Homo sapiens: one gene and its partners. The main gene of each other region encodes a partner of the protein of the gene in region 3 in a complex. Each region holds a gene or a part of one and is shown on either strand. Other genes may lie near its edges.

Region 1 (6,620 bases), on a different chromosome or scaffold from region 3:
TCAAACTCCTGGGGTTGAGGGATCCTCCCAAAGTGCTGGGATTACAGGACGTGAGCCACTGCACCCGACCTGGGGGGTGATTTCTTATCTAAGGAGGCACAGGAAGACAGTTGCGTATCAGAACATAAAACAAGGCCGGGTGTGGTGGTTCACGCCTGTAATCCCAGCACTGTGAGAGGCCAAGGCGGGCAGATCACAAGGTCAGGAGTTTGAGATCAGTCTGGCCAACACAGTGAAACCCCATCTCTACTAAAAATACAAAAAAATTAGCTGGGTATGGTGTGCACTTATAATCCCAGCTACTTGGGAGGCTGAGGCAGGAGAATCACGTGAACCCTGGAGGCGGAGGTTGCAGTGAGCTGAGATCGTGCCATTGCACTCCAGGCCAGGCAACAGTGCAAGACTCCGTCTCAAAAAAAAAAGAACATAAAACAAGCATTTTTTAATCTCTTACCACCTCAGGTTCAGACTAGACAGATAAAAAATTCCCTGGGTGGACTCTAAGAACCTACATTTGCAAAACAACATTTATTCTTTTAAAAAAATCTATATACATTGCCATACAAAGATACCACATTGAAGCAGTTCTCAGGAACCTTCCAGTGAGCCTTCTCTTATAATTGCCCGAGCAAGATTTCGTGCCAGAGAAAGTCTCAGCATTTCCACCTTGGTGGTCTCTATGTCATCATCCTGCAAAGCAGAGAGCGCCAGCATGAGCTAAGAGCAGGAAGGAGCCCTTTCACACTCCCGAAGGGTCTAGCTAATCCAAAGGTAGAGGGCACTTAACATTCATAGTAGCTTCCAGCAAATTATCGATGTAAAAGAAAGCAATACCAAAGGGCCATACTGGAAATGATGAACAGCAAAGAACAAAATGTAGAGATGAGAACACTAGAATCCCTGATTTTCTCCTAAAAGAAGGTGGTGTGTGAATTACACAGGTTAAGGGGAACAGAGGCACATGTGTCCATAGGAGCCAGTGTTTCTGGAGGGAAGGGGAAGCCTGAGATAGAGGGAGCCTTTTCCCACCTCCATGTGGAACCATCAACCCAAAAGTGAAAATGACCTGGAGCTGCTCGGTATCAGATTCTCCATGCACAGGTCTTCTTGACGTCAAGTCCTCCAGACACCGCATCAACTCATAAGTCTGTTCTGCTGAGAAAATCACCTAGGGAAGAGAGCCTGCCTTGCTTGGCTGCCCCCAGCCCTGGCCTGCATTGGTTGGGGCAGGGGCCCATGTTCGGACGTTCTTCCTTTCATACCCTTCGCAATAGTGTGCTTTGTATACGAATACCTCATTTCAAATCAAGCAGTGTTTGTTTCCTGTGTGAGTCTGGAATCCCAGAGAGGGCGCTAAGGGGAATACACGCGCACAGGCAGAACGACAAAGGAGGAAACACGCACATCGGCAACAGCTATACAACTAAGCTCTAGCAGGGACTGACAAGCAAAGAAAACCACTGCTGCTGCAACCTTCACCTGTTTCTGTTCCAAAAGGGGCAAGGCGTCTGTCAGCAGAGTCATCCAGAAAGACCGAGGGGCAATCCGAGACGTCATCAAGGACAGAAGGAGAGAAGCTGCGTCGGCAAAACGCTTCTCCCCGTACATACGGTGGAACTCGCGATACTTTCCTATGGCGAAACAAGAGCACTGAGTAACCTGCATATTCCCCCAAATTGCCCAAGTGACACCTACAAAAGTCACCCTGGCCCTAAACAGGAGAAGAAAAACCTCAGACCAGCCACTCCACAAAGCAGGAGATTTTTTTCTGTCTCCAAACTCATAGGTCCCAATGAGATGCAGACCAAGAGCATTCAAAACAGACTTGGAAGAACTCCGAAGAGCCAAATCTGGGGAAACATCAGAGTCAAAATACATAACAAGAGTCATGGATTAAAAGAGATTGACTAGGCCAGGCGTGGTGGCTCATGCCTATGCCTGTAACCCCAGCACTTTGGGAGGCCGAGTCAGGTGGATCACCTGAGGTCAGGAGTTTGAGACCAACCTGGCCAACATGGTGAAACCCCATTTCTACTAAAAATACAAAAATTAGCCGGGTATGGTGGCATGCACCTGTAGTCCCAGCTACTCAGGAGGCTGAGGAGGAAGAATGGCTTGAACCCGGGAGGTGGAGGTTGCAGTGAGCCAAGATTGTACCACTGCACTCCAGCGTGGGCGACAGAGTGAGACTCCGTCTCAAAAAAAAAAAAAAAAAGAAGAAACATGGAGGCACTGGCCAGGCACAGTAGCTCACACCTGTAATCCCAGCACTTTGGGAGGCCGAGGCGGGCGGATCACTTGAGGTCAGGAGTTCCAGACCAGCCTGACCAACATGGTGAAACCCCATCTCTACTAAAAATACAAAAATTAGGCGGGGCGCAGTGGCTCACGCCTGTAATCCCAGCACTTTGGGAGGCCGAGGCAGGCGGATCACAAGGTCAGGAGATCAAGACCATCCTGGCTAACACGGTGAAACCCCATCTCTACTAAAAATACAAAAAATTAGCTGGGTGTGGTGGCGTGCGCCTGTAGTCCCAGCTACTTGGGAGGCTGAGGCAGGAGAATTGCTTGGACCCGGGAGGCGGGGGTTGCAGTGAGCCGAGATCACGCCACTGCACTCCAGCCCGGGTGACAGAGTGAGACTCTGTCCCCAAAAAATAAATAAATAAAATACAAAAATTAGCCAGGTGTGGTTCCGCGTGCCTGTAATCCCAGCTACTTGGGAGGCTGAGGCACGAGAATTGCTTGAAGTCAGGAGGTGGAGGTTGCAGTGAGCCTGGCAGCCTGGGCCACAGAGCGAGTAAGATTCTGTCTCAAAAAAAAAAAAAAAGAAAAAATAAAAGAAAAGAAGAAAGAAAGAAAGAGAAAGAGAAAGAGAAAGAAAGAGAGAAAGAAAGAAAAACAAACAAACAAACAAACAAACATGGAGGCACTAAGGAGATGTGACAGCCAAACTCATGATCCTGGACATGACGGAGGATGTTTCTGGGACCACTGATGCAATGGGAATACATGAAGGAAGCGCTGGGAGAAGTCTGACGTGATCCCTCCAACCTCCCCAACTACCCACTTGTGCCCAAAGCACAGGGCACAAAACCCAGAGACTCACCCAGGAATGTCAGTCGGTCACTGAGCATCATGGCTGGCCCCAGGTTGTCAATGAGATCCAAATCAGAAAAGCAGCCTCGCTCACAGTAATCCCTGAGGAACCTGCAGGGCCCGGCCCAGAGATCAGAGCAGCAGTCTCAGGCCCACCTCAACCACCCAGTCCCTGGGAAGCCAACACTAGCGGCACCCACCTGTCTGACACGAGCGTGGCAAAGGCGGCATCCTTAGCACGGATGCTCCAAGAGAGGGCAGAACCCAGGCGATTGTTGCGGACGGCTTTCATGGCTAAGATCTTACAAATGCTGCGAACTTTGCAGGGGAAAAGAAAAGGTAAACGGCTTTCACTCCACAAATCACTCCATTCCTGAGCCCTGTGGGGACCGGAGTGGCCTCACAGCCTCACTCCACCGCAGAGCCACTCTTTGGGCTCTAAATGCAGCTGGATCGGCAGAGCTGGAAACTCGGCTGATTAACAGTGTCTGGGATCTGCTAAGAGTGTAAGTGCCCATCACGGCAAGACTGGCTCTATGAGTGTGTGTGGCTTCAAGGGGAGCAAAACGTTGCTCCCTACATGTCAGCTCTTCTATTTTTTTTCTCCCTACGTGTTTCTCCCTACGTGTCAGCTCTTCTATTACCTCTCCAGATGCCTCAAATCACATCTTCCTGTGGATCGTGAATACCATATGCTTTCAGAAATGGTCGTGAACATGCAACTGCCTCTCTGCAGGGTAATAACTCATGTTTACATTACTCAACAGTGAGGGGAGAAATGAAGGGGCAGACTTGGTCATCCTCATTCCACTCTCTCTGCTTTTCTGGAGCCACCTCCAGCACTGCTTCCCCATTGAGCCAGGCTGAGCTAGCAATAGCAACCCACCTGGACAGGGAAACAGCGCCAACCCCAGCCCTGACCTCGTGGAATCAAGTGTGTGAGAAAAGGGGCGGCTCAGGCCTTTCCAGATGGCGTGTAGATTTTGTCTGGGTTCCAGTGGATCCCTAGCTTTCCTGTCCCTCCCAAGTAATTATCCCATCTCTTAGTTTACCTCTTGGCGTCCACAGCCCCACGTCTCCAGTGTGGCTCGTGAGGAGGAGGATGGCTGGGGTAGGCATAAAGTGTGACCTCAGGATCCCCTGACTCCTGCGTCCCACAGACAGTAGGCTGGGAGCAGGGCCAGCTCACCTTGTTCAGTCATCTGCCGCTGCTCACAGATCCGCAGCACCTTCAGGGCTTTCTGCTCGGTGTTCAGAGGTATCCGCTCAATGTGCAGCTCCAGGGAGACTCGGCCCAGCTCGGGGCAGTAATCAAAGTAATCGACCCCCAGCTGCCACAGGCTGCAAAGGTTCGAGGAGGACAGACATGAGGTGCTGCCTCATGGCTCCGAGGACTGGCACCTACAGCTCCCTTTCACTGACCCTTCCGAAGCCTTCAAGGAGCCAACTGGGAGAGAACAGTCCAAGCTCCAATGGCACCCGCATGCTGAAGAGCACCCGCATAGCCCACACCCATGGGGTCCTTCCTACCTGGGATGAGCAAACAGTCCCGAGGCGTACTCCAGCAGGAGGAACTCTCTCATGTTGGAACCGAAACTGGAATAAAACATAACAAAAGACCAAGACTCCTGGCCTGCCCTGTTCAGGGCCCCCTTAGCCCAACCTCCCTTTCAGGCATTCAGTTCACACCACCCTCGGGGGCCTGGTGGTAAGAAGAGGAGGATCGGTGCCTCCCGGCCACTTACTAGAGGTTGTGTGACTGGAGGAGCTTGCAGTGGTCCAGCAGGTCTGTCAGGTGGGCCACAAACCACCAGTTGCTCAGGGCGATGCTGCAGATTCAGACACCAAGGCAAGAAGGAAAATCAGGGCACAGGCCGCGTCCCACAAGAGTGGGGGTGAGCAAGAAACCCCACATGTCCTGTCCCTCAAAGAGATGGGGCCGGGCGTGATGATAGCTCATGCCCGTGATCCCAGTACTTTGGGAGGCCAAGGCAGGCAGATCACCTGAGTCCAGGAATTTAAGACCAGCCTGGGCAACATGGCAAAACCCCATCTCTACAAATACAAAAATTAGCCAGGCATGGTGGCACACACCTGTAATCCCAGCTACTCGAGAAGCTGGGGTGGGAGTATTGCTTGAGCCTGGGAAGCAGAGGCTGCAATCGGCCGAGATCACGCCACCGCACTCCAACTTGGGTGAGAGAGCACAACCATATCTCAAAAAAAAAAAAATCGCTCAGAAAGTAGTTGAGGTGGAGTCTTGCTCTGTCACCCAGACGGGAGTGCACTGGTGAGATCTCGACTCACTGCAACCTCTGCCTCCCAGGTTCAAGCAATTCTCATGCCTCAGCCTCTTCAGTAGCTGAGATTACAGGCATGCGCTACCACACCCAGCTAGAAAGTAGCTTTTGAATGTTCTCACCACACGCACACCAAAAGGGTCACTATGTGAGGTGACAGATGTCACTAGCTTAATTTCACAATGTATACATCTATCAAAACATGTTGTTGGCCGGGCGCGGTAGCTCACACCTGTAATCCCAGCACTTTGGGAGGCCGAGGTGGGAGGATCATGAGGTCAGGAAATCAAGACCATCTTCGCTAACACGGTGAAACCCCATCTCTACAAAAAGTACAAAAAATTAGCCGGATGTTGTGGCGGACACCTGTAGTCCCAGCTACTCTGGAGGCTGAGGCAGGAGAATGGCGTGAACCTAGGAGGCGGGGCTTGCAGTGAGACGAGATCGCGCCATTGTACTCCGGCCTGGGCGACAAAGTGAGACTCCATCTCAAAAAAAAAAAAAAACAAAAAACATGTTGTACACCTTGGCCGGGTGCAGTGGCTCATTCCTGTAATCCCAACACTGAAAGGCCGAGGCGGGTGGATCACTTGAGCTCAGGAGTTCAAGACCAGCCTGGCCAAAATGGCAAAACCCCATCTCCACCAAAAATACAAAAGTTAGCTGGGCGTGGTGGCGTGTGCCTGTGGTCCCAGCTACTCGGAAGGCTGAGGCAGAAGATCGCTTGAGCCCAGGAGGCAGAGGCTGCAGTGAGCTGAGATCGTGCCACTGCACTCCAGCCTGAGTGACAGGGCAAGACTCTGTCTCCAAAAAAAAAAAAAAAATTTTGTACACCTTAAATACATACTACTTTGTTAATCACACCTCAATAAAGCTGGGGAAAAAAATGGGAGGGAGTGGGCTGGGCCAGGGGAAAGGACACCTCAGCTTCCCAAAACAGCTGTTGCTACCCAGATTTCTAGCTGATGGTTATGTCGAAACCATTGGAGAAGCCAGTGAAAAGGCTATAGGGGACCCAGGCTAAGGGAGCCAAAGCCTTAGCCTGCACGAAAGCCACCAACAACTGGAAGGAAGGGCTGAGACAGTGCCCGGTGTCTTCCCAAAGGATCCAGCAGCCTCCAAGGCTGGAAGGCAGCAAGCACTGAGAGCAGAGAACTAACAACACAACTCAAGTGACGGAGACCAGACATAGTGCTGCACAAAGCCACCACGGTCTCTCTA
Region 2 (7,040 bases), 2.2 Mb from region 3:
AGGTCAGGAGATTGAGACCATCCTGGCTAACACGGTGAAATCCTGTCTCTACTAAAAACACAAAAAATTAGCCGGGCGTGGTGGCAGGCGCCTATAGTCCCAGCTACTTGGGAGGCTGAGGCAGGAGAATGGCGTGAACCCGGGAGACAGAGCTTCCAGTGAGCCAAGATCACGCCATTGCACTCCAGCCTGGGAGACAGAGCGAAACTCCATCTCAAAAAAAAAAGAAACTCTACCAAATCCTTATCACCTCTAATAGCCCAAGATTCTATGATTAACATGTCAGTCTTTGACCTCTCCACTCCTCCAAGTATGAAGACAGATCTCAGCTTATATGCATATATATTCTTTACTTTTTAAAGAGATAGGGTCTCACTCTTTTGCCTAGGCTGGAGTGCAGTAGTGCGATCACAGTTCACTGCAGCCTCAAACTCCTGGACTCAAGTGATCCTCCTGCCTCAGCCTCCCAAGAAGCTGGGAGTACAGGCACAAGCCATTGCACCCAGGTCATGTTTTTTTTAAAGCCTTTAGTAGGTCTTCCCTGAAGATGACGGTACCTGATCACCTACCACCGATAAAAGAATTGGTGCCAAAATCCTACATTATCTAAAACCAACAGGGAAAAAGGATAAAGGCAGAAGAAAGGAGCTGACATAAACCACAAACCTTTACTGAGTCCCGAGTACCCCTGTAGTCCTCTTGCAGGTAACACTGGAGTAACTGCACACTCTGTTCTTCATCAAGACCCTGAAACACAGAGATTTTAAGTAAGGAACAGCTCAGAAATCGCACACAGGATGCAGAGAATTTAAAGATTTGTCTTCTACAATGAACACAGGACTTGAATAAACAAAAATGCTTCTCAAAGATTCATAAAACATAACAATTCTGACTCTAATAGAAGACAAGAGCCAGTCACTGACATACAATTTTTATTACAATTAAATGTACATGCCAGAAACAACGATGCTTATTCACTAAGCACATTAATACAGCAGTAGGCATGATGTGAGCTTCCAAAATGACAAACTTAGTCACCTTAAAGACCACCACATGTCTGGTGAAGAAAACCCTATGATATGCAGTGAATGGATCAGGCAACTTTGACTTGTAACTTTTAGGGAGAAGAGTTGCAACCTGGGTATTTATAAAACAATTTAATCCCCAAAACAAAAAGAAACTGAATTTTCACTATCACTAGCAATATAACCACGCACATCCACACTGCAAGTAATAAATTGAGCGAGTGCTAATTTTTACTCACCAAAAACTTGCTGATTCTTAAACCCAGTTCCTTCAATGGTGAAGCTACATCTTTATTAGCTTTCACTTTTTCAGCTGAACTTGGACTACAAAAAGAACAGTGAATCATTTCTTCATTCTCAATAGCCCACTGAGTTTAAAATAAAAATATTTTAAAATATTTTTCCTACAGACTATTTTCTGCCCTTCAGATGCCTATAAACACACACACAAACACACACACGCACACACACACACACACACACACACACACCCATTCACCTCTACAAACTTCATAACGCAGAACTGGTTATGCCTAACAAAACAAAACAAAAAAAAAGTGGTTAAATTACAGTTATAACAATGTTATTTGTAAACACATTAAGTTACATTATTTTTGATCCTTACTACTGCCCTAAAAGGCAAATATTACTATTCTCCTTTTACAAATGGAATTGCCAGCACTTAGGGTAAATAACTTACCAAAAATCCCACAGCTCATAAACAGTTGCTAAAATTTAAAACCAGGTCTGTGGCATACATACATATATTAATATATTATCTGTAATAGCTCTGTCCACCGAGAAGGCCTAGAATTTATAATACTCCAACAGCAGGAGGTACATGCAGCACCCAGATCCTGCTTTATAATACCATTCTCTAATAACAGGATTCCTTGGAGAATTGGTTGATTCTAGAGTCAGGGCAAGGAAAATACAAGAAAATCTTGAAGCATCTTATAGTGAAAAGAAGTACAAAAGGGCTTAAGAAACCAAAGTCCTTTCGGTAGGAGATGACATAATAGAAAAAAAAGAAAAGAAAAAAAGAAAAAAGGAAGGACACGCCCAAAGGACAGAGGCCAACCTAAAAGAATGCCCAATAGCCAAAGCTGAAACAAGGTATAAACAAAGTATAAGATAAATAAAATAAATATATTTGAGTCTATACTGATATAAACTAATGAATAAATAAATAGGATAGGGAGGGGCCAGAACAATGGCTCATGCCTGTAATCCCAGCACTTTGGGAGGCCAAGGCAGGAGTGTAGCTTGAGGCCAGGAGTTTGAGACCAGCCTAGACAACAAAGTGAGACCCTCATCTCCACCAAAAGTGAAAAAAATTAGCTGGACATGGCTATATTTAGTACTCACTTCCAAAAAATAAAATAGGAAAAGAGAAAAAAGTAACTTTACAGAGGAGAAACTTGGCAAATGCCTCCTTAACTGAGTGACCAAGATTAACATTACCAGTGATTTCATGTGGACAGCATGTACTCTCTGCTATGATGTGGTAAGAAGGGTAGCTTGGCCAGGCGTGGTGGCTCACGCCTGTAATCCCAGCACTTTGGGAGGCTGAGGCGGGCGGATCACCTGAGGTCAGGAGTTCAAGACCAGCCTGACCAATATGGTGAAACCCTGTCTCTACTAAAAATACAAAAATTAGCCAGGCATGGTGGCATGCACCTGTAGTCCCAGCTACTCGGGAGGCTGAGACAGAATTGCTTGAACCCAGGAGGCAAAGGTTGCAGTGAGCTGAAATCGCACCATTGCACGCGAGCATGGGCAACAAGAGCGAAACTCCATCTCAAAAAAAAAAAAAAGAAGAGCACCTCACCTCTGTGTATTTTTCCCAAAAACTCACAACCCCAGTCTAATAATAAGGAAAACATCAGACAAACCCAAATTGGGGGCATACTACAAAATAACTGACCAGTCCTCAAACTTGTTCAAGGTCATGAAAATCAAGGTAAGACTAAGACATTGTCGACATTGTCACCGGCCGCGGTGGCTCACGCCTGTAATCCCAGCACTTTGGGAGGCCGAGGCGGGCGGATCATGAGGTCAGGAGATTGAGACCATCCTGGCGAACACAGTGAAACCCTGTCTCTACTAAAAATACAAAAAATTAGCCAGGCGTGGTGGCGGGCGCCTGTAGTCCCTGCTACTCGGGAGGCTGAGGCAGGAGAATGGCGTGAACCCGGGAGGCAGAGCTTGCAGTGAGCCGAGATCGTGCCACTGCACTCCAGCCTGGGCCACAGAGCGAGACTCCATCTCAAAAAAAAAAAAAAAAAAAGACTAAGACATTGTCACAGCGGGCGCCTGTAGTCCCAGCTACTCGGGAGGCTGAGGCAGGAGAATGGCGTGAACCCGGGAGGCAGAGCTTGCAGTGAGCCGAGATCGTGCCACTGCACTCCAGCCTGGGCCACAAAGCGAGACTCCATCTCAAAAAAAAAAGACTAAGACATTGTCACAGCTAAGAGGAGACTACAGGCACTTGACAACTAGGTTGGATCCTGGAACAGAAAAAAGATAGTAAAGAAAACAATAGGCTGGGTATGACGGCTCACGCCTGTAATCTCAGCACTTTGGGAGGCCGAGGTGAGCAGATCACTTGAGATCAGGAGTTCAAGGCCAGCCTGGCCAACATGGTGAAACCCCATCTCTACTAAAAATACAAAAATTAGCTGGGCGTGGTGGCGGGCACCTGTAATCCCAGCCACTCGGGAGGCCAAGGCAAGCGAATCACTTGAACCCGGGAGGTGGAGGTTGCAGTAAGCTGAGATGTGACACTGCACTCCAGTCTGGGCGACAGAGCAAAACCCCATCTCAAAAAAAAAAAAAGAACAGACACTGGAATGAGACCACCAGGGTCAAATCCTGGTTCTATCACTTAGTAGCTGTGTGACCATGACAAGTTGCTTAACCTCTTTGTGCCTCAGTTTCCCCACTGGTAAAATGGAAACAATGATAAGGGTACCTAAATGTGATAATATAGAGATTATCTTTTTAAAAAGTCCATGTATTTTAGATACATAGTCAAGTATTTGCAGATAAAATAACAAGGTATCTGGGATTTACTTTAAGGTAATTACAGGGGAAGAATTAACAGACAGATGAATAACAAGGAAAAGTTCATCGTTAACCTAAGAGAATGAAAATGGAAGGTAAAGATGTAATACATTCAAAAGCAGTACAAAAGTAGAAGGGAAATGAGGGTGACTTAGACTATAACGCATAATAGAATGAGATCTGGACTAGGAATCAAGATCAAATAAGCCCAGCCCTACAAGCTGCATTCTCTTTATTTGCAACTACTTTATATTTTATTACTATGTTTTCCACTACCCAATAAAAAGATCTATATATTCACCCAAAGAATAAAAGTAGTAACTATCTCAAAGGGGTGTTGTGGGGATTAAATAACTTTTGATAAGTCAGGTGCTTAGAGTATTAATTGTTACATAGTTAACACTACACAAGTGTCAGTTGTTAGCATCATCCTTCACTGCTATCTCCCACCAATTAGTACTCACACAGACACTGTGGACTCTGAATAAATATTAGAAAATTCGTTGAATGTTTAATAAATTCTCATCCCCACACATAGGTCATAATTATATTCTACAATACTGTATTTCTAGAAGGAATTTCCTTTTCTTTCGGTCAACAAAAAAACAAATGTACCCTACTGTTTTCCACTGGTAAACTAAATTGTATTATCTCTGGTATACATAACCCTACAATATCATCAAAGCACATAGAAGGATGGTTTTATCCATGTCAGCTTCCTTAGGACAATTACTTTAACCAGACACCCGGAACTGCCATACCTGGGAGGTTTGTAGTAAGAAAGCCCCTCTAACAATCGCCGCCAATGTTTATTCAGTTCTGCCTCAATCTGACTCTGGAAAAGAACAAGGTAATTATACAAATGCAGTATTTTTTTTTTTTTTTGAGACAGAGTCTCACTCTATCACCCAGGCTGGAGTGCAGTGGCACCAACTTGGCTGACTGCAACCTCCGCCTCCCAGGTTCAAGTGATTCTCGAGCCTCAGCCTCCCGAGTAGCTGGAATTACAGGTGCCAGCCACCACACCCAGCTAATTATTGTATTTTTAGTAGAGATGGAGTTTCACCATGTTGGCTAGGCTGATCTCGAACTCCCCACCTCAAGTGATCTGCCTGCCTTGGCCTCCCAAAGTGCTGGGATTACAGGCGTGAGCCAAGGCACCCGACCGCAAATGCAGTTTTTTGTGCTTTCTTTTTTTTTTTTTTTTTTGAGACGGAGTCTCACTCTGTTACCCAGGATGGAGTGCAGTGGCGCAATCTTGGCTCACTGCAACCTCCGCCTCCTGGGTTCAAGCAATTCTCCTACCTCAGCCTCCTGAGCAGATGGGACTACAGGCGCACGCCACCATGCCAGTCAGTTTTTTTTGTATTTTTAGTAGAGATGGGGTTTCACCATATTGTCCAAGCTGGTCTTGAACTCCTGAACTCGTGATCTGCCCATGTCAGCAAAGTGCAGGGATTACAGGTGTGAGCCACTGCGCCCGGCCCAAATGCAGTTTTATTAATAATCAGACTCGGCCAGGCATGGTGGCTCAGGCCTGTAATCCTAGCACTTTGGGAGGCCGAAGCGGGCGGATCCCCTAGGGTTGGGAGTTGGAGACCAGCCTGACCAACATGGAGAAACCCTGTCTCTACTAAAAAATACAAAATTAGCTGGGCGTGGTGGTGTATGCCTGTAATCCCAGCTACTCGGGAGGCTGAGGCAGGAGAATCACTTGAACCTGGGAGGCAGAGGTTGTGGTGAGCCGAGATTGCACCAATGCACTCTAGCCAGGACAACAAGCACGAAACTCCGTCTCAAAAAAAAAAAAAAAAAATCAGATTCCAGAATCACACTAAGTATTACACATTCCTTTGAGTGTTTTTAATATGCATTTTTCCCCAGAGTTGAAATCATTTTGAATACAGAATTCTGTAACCTTCTTTTCTTTGCTTAACATTATAACATAATGACTTAACCTTATTATGAAAGTCTTGATAAACATACTTTCAAGTTGCTGCATAATACTTGTATCAAGTTGGTAGATCATAATTCATTTACCATTCCTCTAATGTTTGATATACTTAAGCTGACTGTAATTATTTAATAATATAAATGATGTTGTGGTGAAGTTTTCTTTGTTGTTTTTTGAGACAGGGTCCTGTTCTGTCACCCAGGCTGGAGTGCAGTGATGCAATCATGGCTCACTGCAGGCTTGATATCCTGAGCTTAAGCGATCTTTCCACCACAGCCTCCTGAGTAGCTGGAACTACTAATACAAGCATATGCCACCAAGCCTGACTTTTTTTTTTTTTTTTTTTTGAGATGGAGTCTCGCTTTGTCACCCAGGCTGGAGTACAGTTGCGCGATCTCGACTCACTGCAACCTCCACTTCCGGGTTCAAGCGAATCTCCTGCCTCAGCCTCCCGAGTAGCTGGGATTACAGGCATGCACCACCACACCGGGCTAATTTTGTATTTTTAGTAGAGACGGGGTTTCTCCATGTTGAGGCTGGTCACGAACTCCTGACCTCAGGTGATCCGCCCGCCTCGGCCTCCCAAAGTGCTGGGATTACAGGCGTGAGCCACCATGCCTGGCCAAGAATCTTTCTTAGGTTGAGGTAGAAGAATGGTATTTGCACCCCTACTCTCAGCAGCCAAGCAATGAACACAGGTATCTTTTCATAAAAGGAATCAATGAAATACAAAGGTAGATTTAAAAGACTTCAGCAGCTAGGCTAGGTAGTCTCATTTCAGCAAAGAAGTAGGGAATGCGTAATGTTTATAAAGCTTTTTGCTTTTTTGAGCTGGGGTCTCGATGTGTCTCCCAGGCTAGAGTTCACTGCAGCCTCAACCTCCCAGGATCAAGCAATCCTCCCACCTTGGACTCCTAAGTAGCTGGGACTACAGACATGCACCACCATGCCTGGCTAATTTTTTAAAAAATTTTTTGTAGAGACGGGGTCTTGCT
Region 3 (7,040 bases):
GTGAGAGGTGCAACAGCTTGACACAGGATGCTAGCAGGGGGACAGAGCTGTGGGCTTATGACATGTGACACAGCAGAGGGTGGAGCTGACAAGACCTCCCGCCAGCCTGGACTGGGGACAGGTACTGTTAAAGAGAGGGATCTAGGATGCTTCGGGGCTTGGGGCTTGTGCAAACATCTGGTTTGTTAGTGCTACTTACCCATTGGAAAAGGACTAGCCTCTAGGGGAGACAGAAATCAAGAGTTCTGCTTTAAAGATACTATAATTTGAAATGCCCTTTAGACTATTTGATACTTACAACGATTAACACTAGAGAGGTCTTAGACTGCATCAGCATTCATTAACAGCAAACATTTATTTGACAAACACTGTATGTCATGCATCATGCCACACCGTGAACTGTGACCTGGGCACTTACTATGTACCTAGTACAGGTGTGTGTTAGGGTACAAGGGTTGGTTAGAGGGACACAGAAAGGAAAAGACATAACGCTTATTCTCAGGGCACTCAAGTAATCACGTGGGAAACTGACATACAATTCTCTTTACATTATACCATAAAAATAAACTGAGATGATGGACTACAAATCTAAATATGAAAGATAAAATAATAAAGCTTTTAGAAAAACATCTTTTTGACCTTGAAATAGAAAATTATTTCTAAAACATGAAAAGCATTAATCATAAAAGAAAAAACTGATATACTTAATTATATTAAAATGAAGAATGTGTATTCATCAAAGAAACAAAAAAGACAATGAATAGACAATTCACAGTGAGAACATATTTGCACTGTATGTGTGTGCGTGTGTGTGTGTATTCAAGGAACTCACTCTTAAAAATCAGAAGGAAAAAGCCAGACAATCCAACAGAAAAACAGAATAAAGACATGAACAGACACAACATAAAAGAAAATATTCAAATGGCCAATAATCATCTTTTAAAAAGCTTAATTTTGCTAATCATTAGAGAAATACAAATTAAAACCACAAAACCATACAACAAAAGATGAAAAATACCAAGAGTGGCAAGTATGTGGAGCAGCCAGAAGTCTCATACACTCTTGGTGGGAATCTACTAATGAGGAATACATGCAGATTCTATGACCCAGCAATCTCACTCATAGGGATACACCCAAGAGAAACTTGCATATGTGTTCATTGAAGATGTCAACTGGAACGGTCATAGCAGTGCTACATACAATGGCTTAAACCTGGAAACTACTCAAGCGCCCATCAGAGTGGAACAAATAGTTGTAATATAATCACACAATAAATTCCATACAACGACATGGATAAATCTCACAAACATAATGTTGAACAAAGCAGCCAGATACAAGAATACATACTGTACAAATCCACTTGATAGGAGGTACAGGCAGGCTAACCTCATCTATGCTGTTGGAAATCAAATCAGCTACTCTTTGGCAAGAGTAGTGACTAGAAGGGGACAGGTGAAAAAGAACTCTGGGGTTCTGGCCTCCGCCTCCCGGGTTCAAGTGATTCTCATGCCTCAGCCTCCTCAGGAGCTGGGACTACAAGTACGTGCCACCACGCCCGGCTAATTTTTGCGTTTTTAGTAGAGACGGGGTTTCACCATGTCGACCAGGCTAGTCTCGAACTACTGGCCTCAGGTGATCCGCCCGCCTTGGCCTCCCAAAGTGCTGGGATTACAGGCATGACCCACTGTGCCCAGCCAGGTTCTCGTAAAATTCTGTTTCTTGATCTGGATGCTAGTTACCAAGGTATGTTCAGTTGTTGACAATTCACTGAGCTGTACATGTATCATGTGTACTTTTTTCTATTTGTATTATACATGAATAAAAAATTAAAATAGCTAAATGGCTTTTACGAGTATACAAGTATTCAAACCTCGCACTTTGGTATTTACTATCACATAGTCCCAATTACTATGTCCAAGGTCTGAATTATAAAACATGAAAACTCATTTTATTCATAGGTATGCTTGGGGCAGTAAATTAATAAACACAAACATTGCAAGCTGAATTTAAACATACCTGGGGAGAGCCTGGCTTTGCCGCTGGAGGGGTTATCCTGGGTGATTTCTGTACCATTGAGGGCACTGGGCTTGAACTGCCCTGAGCAGATCGTCCTGCTTGAAAAAGAAGTCAGTTAAAATAGATGGCATTTATTACCTTTATTTCTCCTATCACAAATGTCCTTTCTCCAAATCTAAGAAATTAAGTTACACATTGCCCCTGGCCCACTTTCATGATTTATTTTAAAGAGTGATGACCACCAGTTGTGCTAGCCTCTGTTCTAAGATAATGAAAAAAATATATTAAAATTTTAGGAGCCAGGTATGGTGGCTCAAACCTGTAATCCTAGCCTTTTGGGAGGCTGAGGCAGGAGGATTGCTTGAGCCCAGGAGTTTGAGACCAGCCTGAGCAACATGGCAAGACTTTGTCTCTACAAAAAAATTTAAAAATTAGCCGACGGTGGTGGTACATGCCTGTAGTCCCAGCTACTCAGGAGGCTAAGGTGGGAAGATCGCTTGAGCCCAGGAGGTAGAGGCTGCAGTGATGTGCTTGGGTGAGAGAGTGAGAGGGTCTCAAAAAACAAAACAAAACTTCCTGTTTACAGTATGACTGACTGTGAAAATATGAATATAATCACTGCAGGTACTCTCTCCTCTGTACTTTTTTTTTTTTTTGAGACAGAGTCTCGCTCTGTCGCCAGGCTGGAGAGCAGTGGCGTGATCTCGACTCCCTGCAATCTCTGCCTCCTAGGTTCAAGTGATTCTCCCGCCTCAGCCTCCTGAGTAGCTGGGATTACAGGCACCCACCACCACACCTGGCTAATTTTTGTATTTTTAGTAGAGATGGGGTTTTGCCATGTTGGCCAGGCTGGTCTCGAACTCCTAACCTCCGGTGATCCACCTGCCTTGGCCTCCCAAAGTGCTGGGTTTATAGGCGTGAGCCACCGCACCCCGCCAAACAACTCTTGTGCCTGTGCTTCTTAAAGAACTGTTATGTAACTGCTCTTCATGGAGGGCAGGCTCCATATGAAAATAAATGCCCAAGAGCAAGGCATTTTTGACTCATTAAATACACTTAGCTCCATAAGAAGTGTCAGAGAGAAGAGTGGCAGCATTTAAGCAAGAGCAAATCTCCCAATTCAGAGTATGAAAATCACAGCACATTAATCATTAATGTATGATACAGGAAGCAAGAAAAAATAACCTTGTCCAACTATGTTAGCTACGACTCTTAACACTTAAAACCGTTAATCTGAGAAGGCAGGGCTGAGGTCTAAAGTTGTCTGCTTAAAATCATACCTGATGGTGAGGGCAAGACTGAGGACTTCAATGGCACGGAACTAGGTGGTGCTGAGAGAGGTGTGGGGTGGCTGAGTGGTCCAGAAGCAGCTGGCTTGGAGGCAGAAGAGAATGGCGACATCGGGGGTGCGCTCTGGGAGCTACTAACAGGAGTAGAGGTAGCTGCAGCAGTAAACCTGAAAAATGGCAGCCTGAAGGCCTCAGAAGAGCCTGCTAGAAGATTCTTTTACACTAGCATGAGCAATGTCATCAAAAGATAACTTATTATCTTTTATGTTAACTTACAAAGATAACATACTTTTTGCCTTCAGGAAACAAAAATGTTTAGCTATTTCTTATAAAAGGTGAAAGCTGCAAGGAAACATTTATCTTTTCGTCTGCTTATTTAGGAATTAATTATTCAGGGGAAATATCAAAACTAAGTTTATCACAATATGAAATACCAAGTTTATCATGATATGAAATACTATTGTTTCCAGCTGAGTTTTAAACAGGAGGTGGGACACAATTATGCTTAGGAGAGTTAGTACTTTCTCTTACCAAGGAAATTACTGAGAACTCGTTTTGAGAGTGAGCACCTTCTCTGGGGAGTGAAAAAGGAAGAGGAATGCAGGGAACTGTCTTTGGGATACTTATGGCCTAAAGGAAATGTAAAGTCGGTTCCACCTAAAGAGCAAAAGTCTGTAGACAATCTAAACTCCAGCATTAGATGACTGGTCAGATAAACTGTGGTGCAGTCAACAAAATGGAACACTATGCAACCCTTAGCATGAAGTGGATGTGTGCCAATTCAGTATTAACAGTAACTGTGGTGGCAGCAGCACCACCATAGCAACAACAGATAGTACAGGCAAGTAGGGAAAAAGCTGGTAGTACTTATACTCGATGGTTATCTTGGGAACTCATGGTTATCTTGGGAGGGGTTACAAGATATAAGGGATTGCTTCCCTCCAAAAGCTTACATTCTAGTGGGAAGAAAAGAACAAGATAAAGAAGTAAATAAATAAGAAATGAGTGAGCTGCCCGACCCAGATCTGGAGGAAACTGGATACCAACCTAAGAATTAGCAGTGAGCAGCCACGGGGCTTCATAGGGACTGTCAAGCAGAAGAATCACCTAACAATTTACAGTGTCACAAGATGACTTTGTGGCTGTGTAGACAGCAGTTCAGAGAGAGTTAAGGGTAGACACAGGGAGGAAAAAAGACTACAAGGGATTCATTTCCCTTCCAGGATGCATACTCTGGATTGCTTCTTTTTTTAAAATAAGGAATATTTCCTACATTTGTAACGTAAAAAAGCAAAACAAATACCTGAATATAAATCCCATAGTCAAAAAAATAAAATGCTAGCTAAGAGACCCTTCTGGACTCTATTCACTGATGAAATGCCAGTATTTTATGTTGGTTGAATTTTTGCCATTTGCAAGTATCACTCTGGGTAAAAAAATTCTACTCAGTTAACTCCTCTCAGAGTGACTCTACTTTTAGTAAATAACATCCAATATTTCTACCCAACTCACAGAAGAATCAAACTTTAGAAGTGACTTACTTTTCACTAAGGTTGACTTTGACAGCAGAGGTTGAGGGTGGGAAGGAGGGCTTCATTGCTATATTTGGAGCAGACACACTTGGCACTGGTGTGCTTTCCAGGGTAGGCTTAAAACCAGATGATCCAAAGGAGAATGAAGCAGCTGATGGAGCCACAGGAGACGCTGCAGGGGTGGGGGCTAGGGAGGCTTTAGAAGGGGGAACAAAAGAGAAGGTTGATGGGCCAGGGCCTGGGGCTGCTTTGGAGCTGTCGGAGCCACTGGAATATGAAGGGGGCTCCCCAGTGACCGTAGCAGATGACTTCAAAGATGAAGAACCAAAGGAGAACACAGTGGGGGCTCCACCAGCAGGAAGCAAAGAAAAAGTGGCAATGGGAGCAGCAGGTGATGAAGGTGGCAGAGAGGCAGGGGCTGCAGCTGCAGAAGCATCCAGTTTCTGTGGGGCTTGAGAGGAGGTTGGGGTAGTGGGAGTACTTCCTGCAGTGACAAAAAAAGGAAGGAAAATGTTAACACTGTAACAGTGGAGGTTCACATAATAGAAAGCAAGTGAAAAAGAATTTGTGGTAGAATAAAGCCAGAAATGTTACTAGTTTAAGAAGCAAAAAGAACACATGGGTACACAGTTCATGTTGGAGTTTTCAGGTCTCATGAGATAAATGAAACTGAAGGAAAACTAAGGAAAGACATTAGAATAATTGGACTTCATGGACTTCTCAGTGCTACTATGGCACACAAAACAGTTCAGTCACTGCAACATTTCATTAACAACCAGGAAAAAGTTTTAATTCAGACCTCCACCTTATTTCACTAAAAGTAATTCCAGATAAATACACATAGAAAGTCACATAAATACAGGTATCTCAAAACAAAGGAGGCAAATTGATAGATATGTTAGGTCTCAGAATCTAACACCTTGATAAATTTAGAAGTGACCAAAAAAAAAACAATCGCAAAGGGAGAAGGTTAAGATTTGTGTAAAAAATAGCTACTCAGGTACAATAACTAAATGGTAATGAACTAAAAAAAAAGATCCATAGCAAATGACAAATAAGATGTTTTCTATTTTTTAAAAAGCTCATACAAATTGAGATTTTAAAATTTCAGGACTAATAAACAGGGAAACTAACTCACATAAAGAAAACACATTCAATCTCTCTAATCAAAGAAATATAAACAAGGTACATTTTTAATTTGTCCTCTAAATTATAAGAATTTAAATATGTCTAACCCCTTATGTTTGGATGGGTAAAACAAACCTGAAACTTTTTATCACTGGTAGGTAACTAGTATTTTTTTTAAGAAAACATTTTGGCATTGTATAAAAAACTGTAAAAAACAGACCCAGTAATTTCTCTTCTAAGAATAAAGCTTACAAACATAATGCAAAAAATGAAAAAGATATTTAATGCAATCCAAATGGTTAAAAAGAAAAAAAAAAGTCAATGGAAGGCTGGGCGCAGTGGCTCATGCCTGTAATCCCAGAGCTTTGGGAGGGCAAAGCAGGAGGACCCTTTGAGTCCAGGAGTTTGAGACCAGCCTGGGGAACAAAGTGAGACCCTGTTGCTACAAAAAAAATACAAAAATCAGCCAGGTGTGATGGCTTGTGCCTGTAGTCCCAGCTACTTGGGAGGCTGAGGTGGGAGGATCGCTTGGACTTGGGAGACAGAGGCTGCAGTGAGCCAAGATCCTGCCACTACACTCCAGCCTGCACAACAGAGTGAGACCCCTGTCTCAAAAATGAATAATTTTTTTTTCTATTTTCCAAACTTTCCATAAGGTAAAAATATTAATCTTTAAATTAAATAACCAACTAAATAAGAAAAGAATTCTTTGTGTCAATATTTTCTATTTATATTAATAGGACTTGGTTGTTCCAAATTAGCTAAGATGGCAGTTTATCTTCATGGAAGACACTTTGTCTAATGCAACGTAATACTTAGATACAAGTATGAAAATACCACTTTCTGAAAACAAAAATCCAAGTAAACTGTCACATTGATGAAAGTATAATAATGCAAGCAAACCTATTCTGTTAATACTTCTTTATACAATAGATATGGAACCAGCTACAACTAACTTCTGTAAAGACATACATAGATGTTAAAACACTTTCATGCATATTAGGTAAACTGACATGAAAAATATATACCAGACCCTAAATAAATCAAAAGCATTTTTTCCACTGAAAACAGAACT
Region 4 (5,658 bases), on a different chromosome or scaffold from region 3:
CCAAATTCCGGCTCCCCTTCCCCAAGGCCAATACGTGGCTCTCAACCCCCATTTAAAATGCTTTCCACTGAAGGTCTAAAATAAAGGGTTACAGATCTTAGCTGTTCCTAGCCCCCAGAATGCATGCCACATGCTGGGTTTATCACCAGAATGCTTCTGACTTACTGTCCCACCACAGTCAGAATCTGACCTTTCCGGCCAAGAATTCTGAAGTTCAGGGGGAGAAAGCACAAATTCAGAGCTGGGATGGGAGTCCTGTACTTACAGAGACCTCTGGGGACTTCGCAGACCCAGGGACTGGATAGGCCTTAGGAGCCTTCTTTGCAGGGAGTGGAGAAGGGGCCTGGCTCATTAAGCCCCGAGGCCAGGTAGAGGCACTTCTGTCACCTTCTGAGGAGCCCCCAGGCTGTGCCTCAGCTAAAGATATTCCCAGGAAAGGCCTGAGAGAGGCTTCTGCTCCACTGAAGGACTGAACAAAGGGGGCACATGGCACTCTGGGAGAATATTCCAGAAATTTACTGGCTACAGACAGGGATAGTGGTGAAGGAACCATCCTAAACAGAGTAAATGCAGAAGTTACTGTACAGAAAGGAACATGCAGAACACATCCACCAACGCTCTCCCACCCTCTCCCTTCTCCCACAAGCACCACACAGAGTGACTCGAGAAAAGCAAAAAAGAAAAAAAGGAAAATAATCAGTCAACTGAAAAACGCAAAGAATTCTCCCCCACTGAGTTTCTAACACAAGTTACTGATCAAGTGAGAAAAGGCTGTACTTTGGCTCTTTCCTTTCTTTCTAAAATACACAGTATTTGAAATTCCTGGTTGAAAAACACAGTAGATGACAGCCACTGAGGTCAACTGGGGCCCACATTATCCCGCTCAGCTGCCTGCCTAGCTCTTCAAAACTGCGTATCTCAGTCATTTCCGATGCCCACAAAAGCACAAACAATGCACAAAATCAGGGTAATCCAATTCCACTAGAGAGCTCCCGGCAGCCCGTGGCAGGCCTGAAGGTCTCTGGGCAGCTAGTACCAGCAGAGGCAAGCCCAGGTAGGGCAGCCACATAGAACTGGGACATACTTACACTAGGAACTTCTTCACTGTTTATCCAAAATGCAAACTTAATTGAGTGTCCTATATTTTTATTTGCTAAGTCTGACCCGGATGAAGGGGCCTTACCTGCAGGCCATAAAGCCCCTGGGTGCCACCTGAAAGCCTGCCTAGGCCAGGTCTGCTGAGGCCACCAAAGCATATGTCCTGATGCTGAAGTCCCCTCTGGGATCACTGACTCCCCACTTCCTGTTCAAACAGAAGCCAGTGTCTGGGGCAAACTTTTTTGCCCTCCCCATCCCCAAGAAATAGAAGCTCAAGGGCAAAGGCAGCCAGGTGTACAGATTGTGCTAGCGCAGAGCTGGGTTTCTGCCAGCACCCCGTCCCTTTTTCTTTTTAAAGATCCGGCCTTCATTATTCACAGTACATCAAATTTCCACCCCCTTCTCAATGTTTCCCTGCTGCTGTGCAGCTCTGCAAGTTTCTGTCTTTGAAGGAACAGCCCTGAGTCTCATTTGATCCTGGGAGACATTATTCTCCTCCACCTTCTTTCAGACTGAATGCCTATTAAGGGCCCCCACGGTGAATCACGGAGTCTGAATCTAGGCACGTGGAGCTGATCCAGAGGATGTGGGGAGGAGCCTGGCACAGGAGGACAAAGCAAAGCATCTGCTCATTCAAATATCTGCTGAGCAATCTACTGTGGGCCAGATACCCCAGAGAGGGCACACAGGAGAAGCATATTTCAAAAACCAAGGTTAGGACAGGAAAATATCCTCTTTCCCTGGGTTAGCAACTTAGAACCACGAGTACTTCACTTAGGTGATCCTGGACAAAAAAACGAAAAAAACGAGCCTACTTTTAAAGAATTATGCACAACTCTGGGAACAAATCAGTGCTTAATTTACCTCAGATATTCCAGCTACCTAGCACGGCCCAGCACACAAAGAGGTTTTGAAATCATCTGCTGCAATGGAATCTTGGCTGATAAATACACGTGGCCTATCTAGCCAGTCACAAGTTATGTGCGTAACAAGGCAAAAAAGCAGCACAGACCACTTGAAATCTCTTTTCAGAACACTTTAGTAATTTTTAACTTTTTTCCTTTTCGGTTGGAAACAAGTGGCAGAAAGATTTATTTCCTTCCTGTCCCTGCCCTGTGAGGGATACCAATATATTATGGAACTGTCAGAAGATGGTGGAAGATGGGAAGACTTGTGGATTCAGCGTAGGATAAAGAATGGGGGATATTTTCTTCCACAGTTTAGACAACTCCTGTTTAATGAGATGCTGACTTCTTCCTGGTATTTCTGAGATGCAGGAACAAAAGCTCAATTCTGATATAAAACACACATTTCCATCAAGAATTTTATATGTAACACTTTCTCCCAATTTGCTGACACAGGGCTCAATTCCTTTCCCAGCTGACTGAGGCTAAGGGAGAGTTCGCAGTCAGTGTGGGGACTGCCAAGACTTTGTCAGGCCTGGGTCAACCCGCCAGCCCAGGGGTTCATTTTCTGACTCAGCATTCAGCATGCTCAAGTCACTTCCTGAGTGGCATGCTGGAAATTTGGCAAGTGATGTGAACCACCTAATGAACTAGACAAAGGTTCTGGTGCCTAGTAGAGAAAAAGGATAGTAGAGATCCAGTCTAAAGCAGGAAGGCGTTGGCAGAGCTGCATATAACTGCAAATTTAGTATTAAGGGTTCTGGCTAGGTGCAGGCAAGGGTAAAAATTCAAAGAGAGAAAAATCACCCTCAGGTTTTTTTTGGTCAGCAAATGCTGGACACTGCGGAAAAGTCTGTAGTTCTTTGCTTTAAAGCTGCCTGTTCTAGGATTTAAATGATGCATCAAGAGTTAACAGTGGCTGCCAAATTGTCCTTAAGAGGCTCTAATTAGACTGTAAGTTCGCGGAGGACAGGAGCTGGGTCTGCATCCTGGCCCCAGTGTAAAATGGGCACTTCCTGCTCTTTGATGAGCCCGCCCAGCTCGTGAGTGAAAAAGGAAGGCATCTGCCGTGGCAGAGCTCACCAGTTTCGCTTCAGTTTTCCCTCTGAAGTTGGGGAGTCAAAGAGTTTTTTGTTGCTGTTGTTGTTGAGCCAAAAGAAGAGAATCTGTGAAATTAAATCTCCAGGCCTCTGAAAAGGATCCAGATCAAGTCAGTACTTTCCTTTGAGTGTTTCAGTGAGTTTATTATGAGCCATTCTGAGACAGGAACAAACCCTGACAGTCTCAAAGTGCCCCCAATTTCATTAGAAAGATCGAAATCTCACATCTGGAAGACAAGACGCCTAGTGCCACTTTCTCTTAGTTTCTCTGGGTAAATAGTGAAATCCTGGCCCAACATCTAAGGAAAGAGTTAGTTCTCTGAAAAAGTGGGCTGAAGATGAGTTTTTAAGATAATAACCTGTCACAGGGTCAGGACTTCTGGGCATAAGCTGTAATGATGGGTACATGACAACCTGATGTTGTGGCCTTGCAAATTCAGCCTGTTTCTCATCTCTGCACAATTCCAGAGGCCTGTGCTCAATCGCACAATCAGCTTGTAGGACAAGAACTGGGATTTGCTCCATCCGAGTCCTGGCCCTTCTGGTATGAACCTACTTATCTTCTTTCTCCTACAAATGTCTCTCTCAGCAAGTCCTTAACTGCCAACCAGTGACCACTTTTCTCCCAACTCACAGCTCCCCTAGCAGAGCAGCTCAAGGTCTGGCTGCTTCTCTCCCTTCTCATTTTAGGACCCATCTACAGGTCAAAGAACCTCATCCCCTGGATGCAGGGCTGGTGTGCAGTTCTCTCTGAGACAAGTAGAACTGCAGGATGCAAGGAAAGGCAAATCCACGATTCTCATGGGATAGTGAAGAAGAGGTAAGCCAGGAGCAAACATGTATTTAAACAACTTGAGCCTTCTCATTTGTGGCATTGTTATATTTCTATCTGCAAGTAAAATCTAGTATTAGAAAAACAAAGCACTAAGTTGCACTTTATGAAAAGTCCACAGAGTACTCTTATTTTTATTTTTGAATCAGAGCCTCACTCCATCGCCTAGGCTGGAGTGCAGTGGCATAAGCTCGGCTCACTGCAACCTCCGCCTCTTGGGTTCAAGTGATTCTCCTGCCTCAGCCTCCCGAGTAGCTGGGATTACAGGCGCCTGCCACCATGCCCAGCTGATTTTTGTATTTTTAGTAGAAACGGGGTTTCCCCATGTTGGCCAGACTGGTCTCAAACCCCTTACCTCAAGCGAACTGCCTGCCTTGGCCTCCCAAAGTGCTGGGGTTACAGGCGTGAGCCACTGCACTCGGCCAGAGTACTCTTTATTTTTTTGAGACGGAGTATCGCTCTTTCACCCAGGCTGGAGTGCAGTGGCATGATCTCAGATCACTGCAACCTTCGCCTCCCGGGTTCAAGCAATTCTGTCTCAGCTTCCTGTGTAGCTGGGATTACAGGTGCCTGCCACCATGCCCGGCTAATTTTTGTATTTTTAGTATAGACGGGGTGTCACAATGTTGGCCAGGCTGGTCTTGAACTCCTGATCTCAGGTGATCACCTGCCTTGGCCTCCCAAAGTGCTAGGATTACAGGTGTGAGCCACCCCACCCGGCCAGGAGTACTCTTTTTTAAAAAGCACTATTAAATCATTTGATTAGCTTAAATCAGCACATATAAGCAGGGCACAACTTGCTAAATCAAGGCCTCTGCAGGGCTCATGTTTCAAGACTTTCTAGTAAAGCTCAATTGAAGACAGTCCTCCAGGGTGACAAGATGGGACTAGAGGAGGAAGGCAGAACACAGCTCCACTGACCCTCAGGCCGCATCCTTCCTGGAACATGGAATCCTACCGATAAGCAGCAGTTGGTTCCATTATCTACAGATTATTTCTTCCCAAAAGAAAAGGTAACAATTATTTTAACAACTGGGAGACAGTGGGGATGACCACACCCTGTGACAAGACAGAAACTTCTCCCTACAAGCAAAGGCACCTTTGGGGACCCTTTGGGGATCTTAACATTCTGCTGGGAAAGAGTCTACCTCAGGGAGCCGTCCATCAAACCAGCAGAGCAGACCACTGCCCACTGTCTCAAGGCTCCAGTTGGCCCATTCAGGAACAAACACGACCTAATTTGCTCTCTGGTTTAGTCTAGGGCTTTGGGACTGATGGTGGGGGAAACAGAGCAAATGATGGGTGACAACTACTGCTCAGGGAGCAAACACCCATGGTGCTGATGCCATGTGGTGGTCTGGATTCTGTACATTGCAGACTCAGCACGTGACCCATGAGCCTGCCTGGCCAATTACCTTAATGAGTGGGGAAGGGGGTCGTCTGAGCAGAGGAACTGACCACCAGAGAAGGGAAATAGGGGCTTAAACGTCTTTCTAGGAGGGGTGTGTACAAGGCCGAGCAGTCAACTCACAGTGGAGCAGCTACAGAGGAGTGCAGTGGCAAGGTTTACCCCTTCCTCAAGTGCAAGCTGGGGGCACTTGCAACCTTCCTTCTTAAGGCTTTTTCTAGGTCTATGCTTTTATCTCCACTGGGATTGCAACAGAACGGCAAACTGATGAATCCTGCAATCAGAGCTGATGATTTGGGGGATGGTCTTGGACCA

The links.
Region 1: NUP214 (region 3) and NUP85 share a complex: the UniProt entries of both Homo sapiens proteins name them as parts of the nuclear pore complex.
Region 2: NUP214 (region 3) and NUP188 share a complex: the UniProt entries of both Homo sapiens proteins name them as parts of the nuclear pore complex.
Region 4: NUP214 (region 3) and NUP93 share a complex: the UniProt entries of both Homo sapiens proteins name them as parts of the nuclear pore complex.

The regions. Positions count from the first base shown.
Region 1 is NC_000017.11:75,229,648-75,236,267, reverse strand, and holds the end of NUP85 (nuclear pore complex protein Nup85), read right to left. Parts: intron 4,929-6,620; coding exon 4,845-4,928; intron 4,696-4,844; coding exon 4,630-4,695; intron 4,441-4,629; coding exon 4,289-4,440; intron 3,418-4,288; coding exon 3,300-3,417; intron 3,211-3,299; coding exon 3,110-3,210; intron 1,632-3,109; coding exon 1,480-1,631; intron 1,169-1,479; coding exon 1,067-1,168; exon of another isoform or gene 1,066-1,066; intron 691-1,065; coding exon 589-690; 3' UTR 510-588; downstream 1-509. UniProt on the Homo sapiens protein: Essential component of the nuclear pore complex (NPC) that seems to be required for NPC assembly and maintenance. As part of the NPC Nup107-160 subcomplex plays a role in RNA export and in tethering NUP96/Nup98 and NUP153 to the nucleus.
Region 2 is NC_000009.12:128,950,659-128,957,698, reverse strand, and holds part of NUP188 (nucleoporin NUP188), read right to left. Parts: intron 4,927-7,040; coding exon 4,853-4,926; intron 1,350-4,852; coding exon 1,265-1,349; intron 748-1,264; coding exon 667-747; intron 1-666. UniProt on the Homo sapiens protein: Component of the nuclear pore complex (NPC), a complex required for the trafficking across the nuclear envelope. Required for proper protein transport into the nucleus.
Region 3 is NC_000009.12:131,142,561-131,149,600, reverse strand, and holds part of NUP214 (nuclear pore complex protein Nup214), read right to left. Parts: intron 5,322-7,040; coding exon 4,847-5,321; intron 3,473-4,846; coding exon 3,297-3,472; intron 2,115-3,296; coding exon of another isoform or gene 2,112-2,114; coding exon 2,017-2,111; intron 1-2,016. UniProt on the Homo sapiens protein: Part of the nuclear pore complex. Has a critical role in nucleocytoplasmic transport.
Region 4 is NC_000016.10:56,845,129-56,850,786, reverse strand, and holds the end of NUP93 (nuclear pore complex protein Nup93), read right to left. Parts: 3' UTR 501-5,658; downstream 1-500. UniProt on the Homo sapiens protein: Plays a role in the nuclear pore complex (NPC) assembly and/or maintenance. May anchor nucleoporins, but not NUP153 and TPR, to the NPC. During renal development, regulates podocyte migration and proliferation through SMAD4 signaling.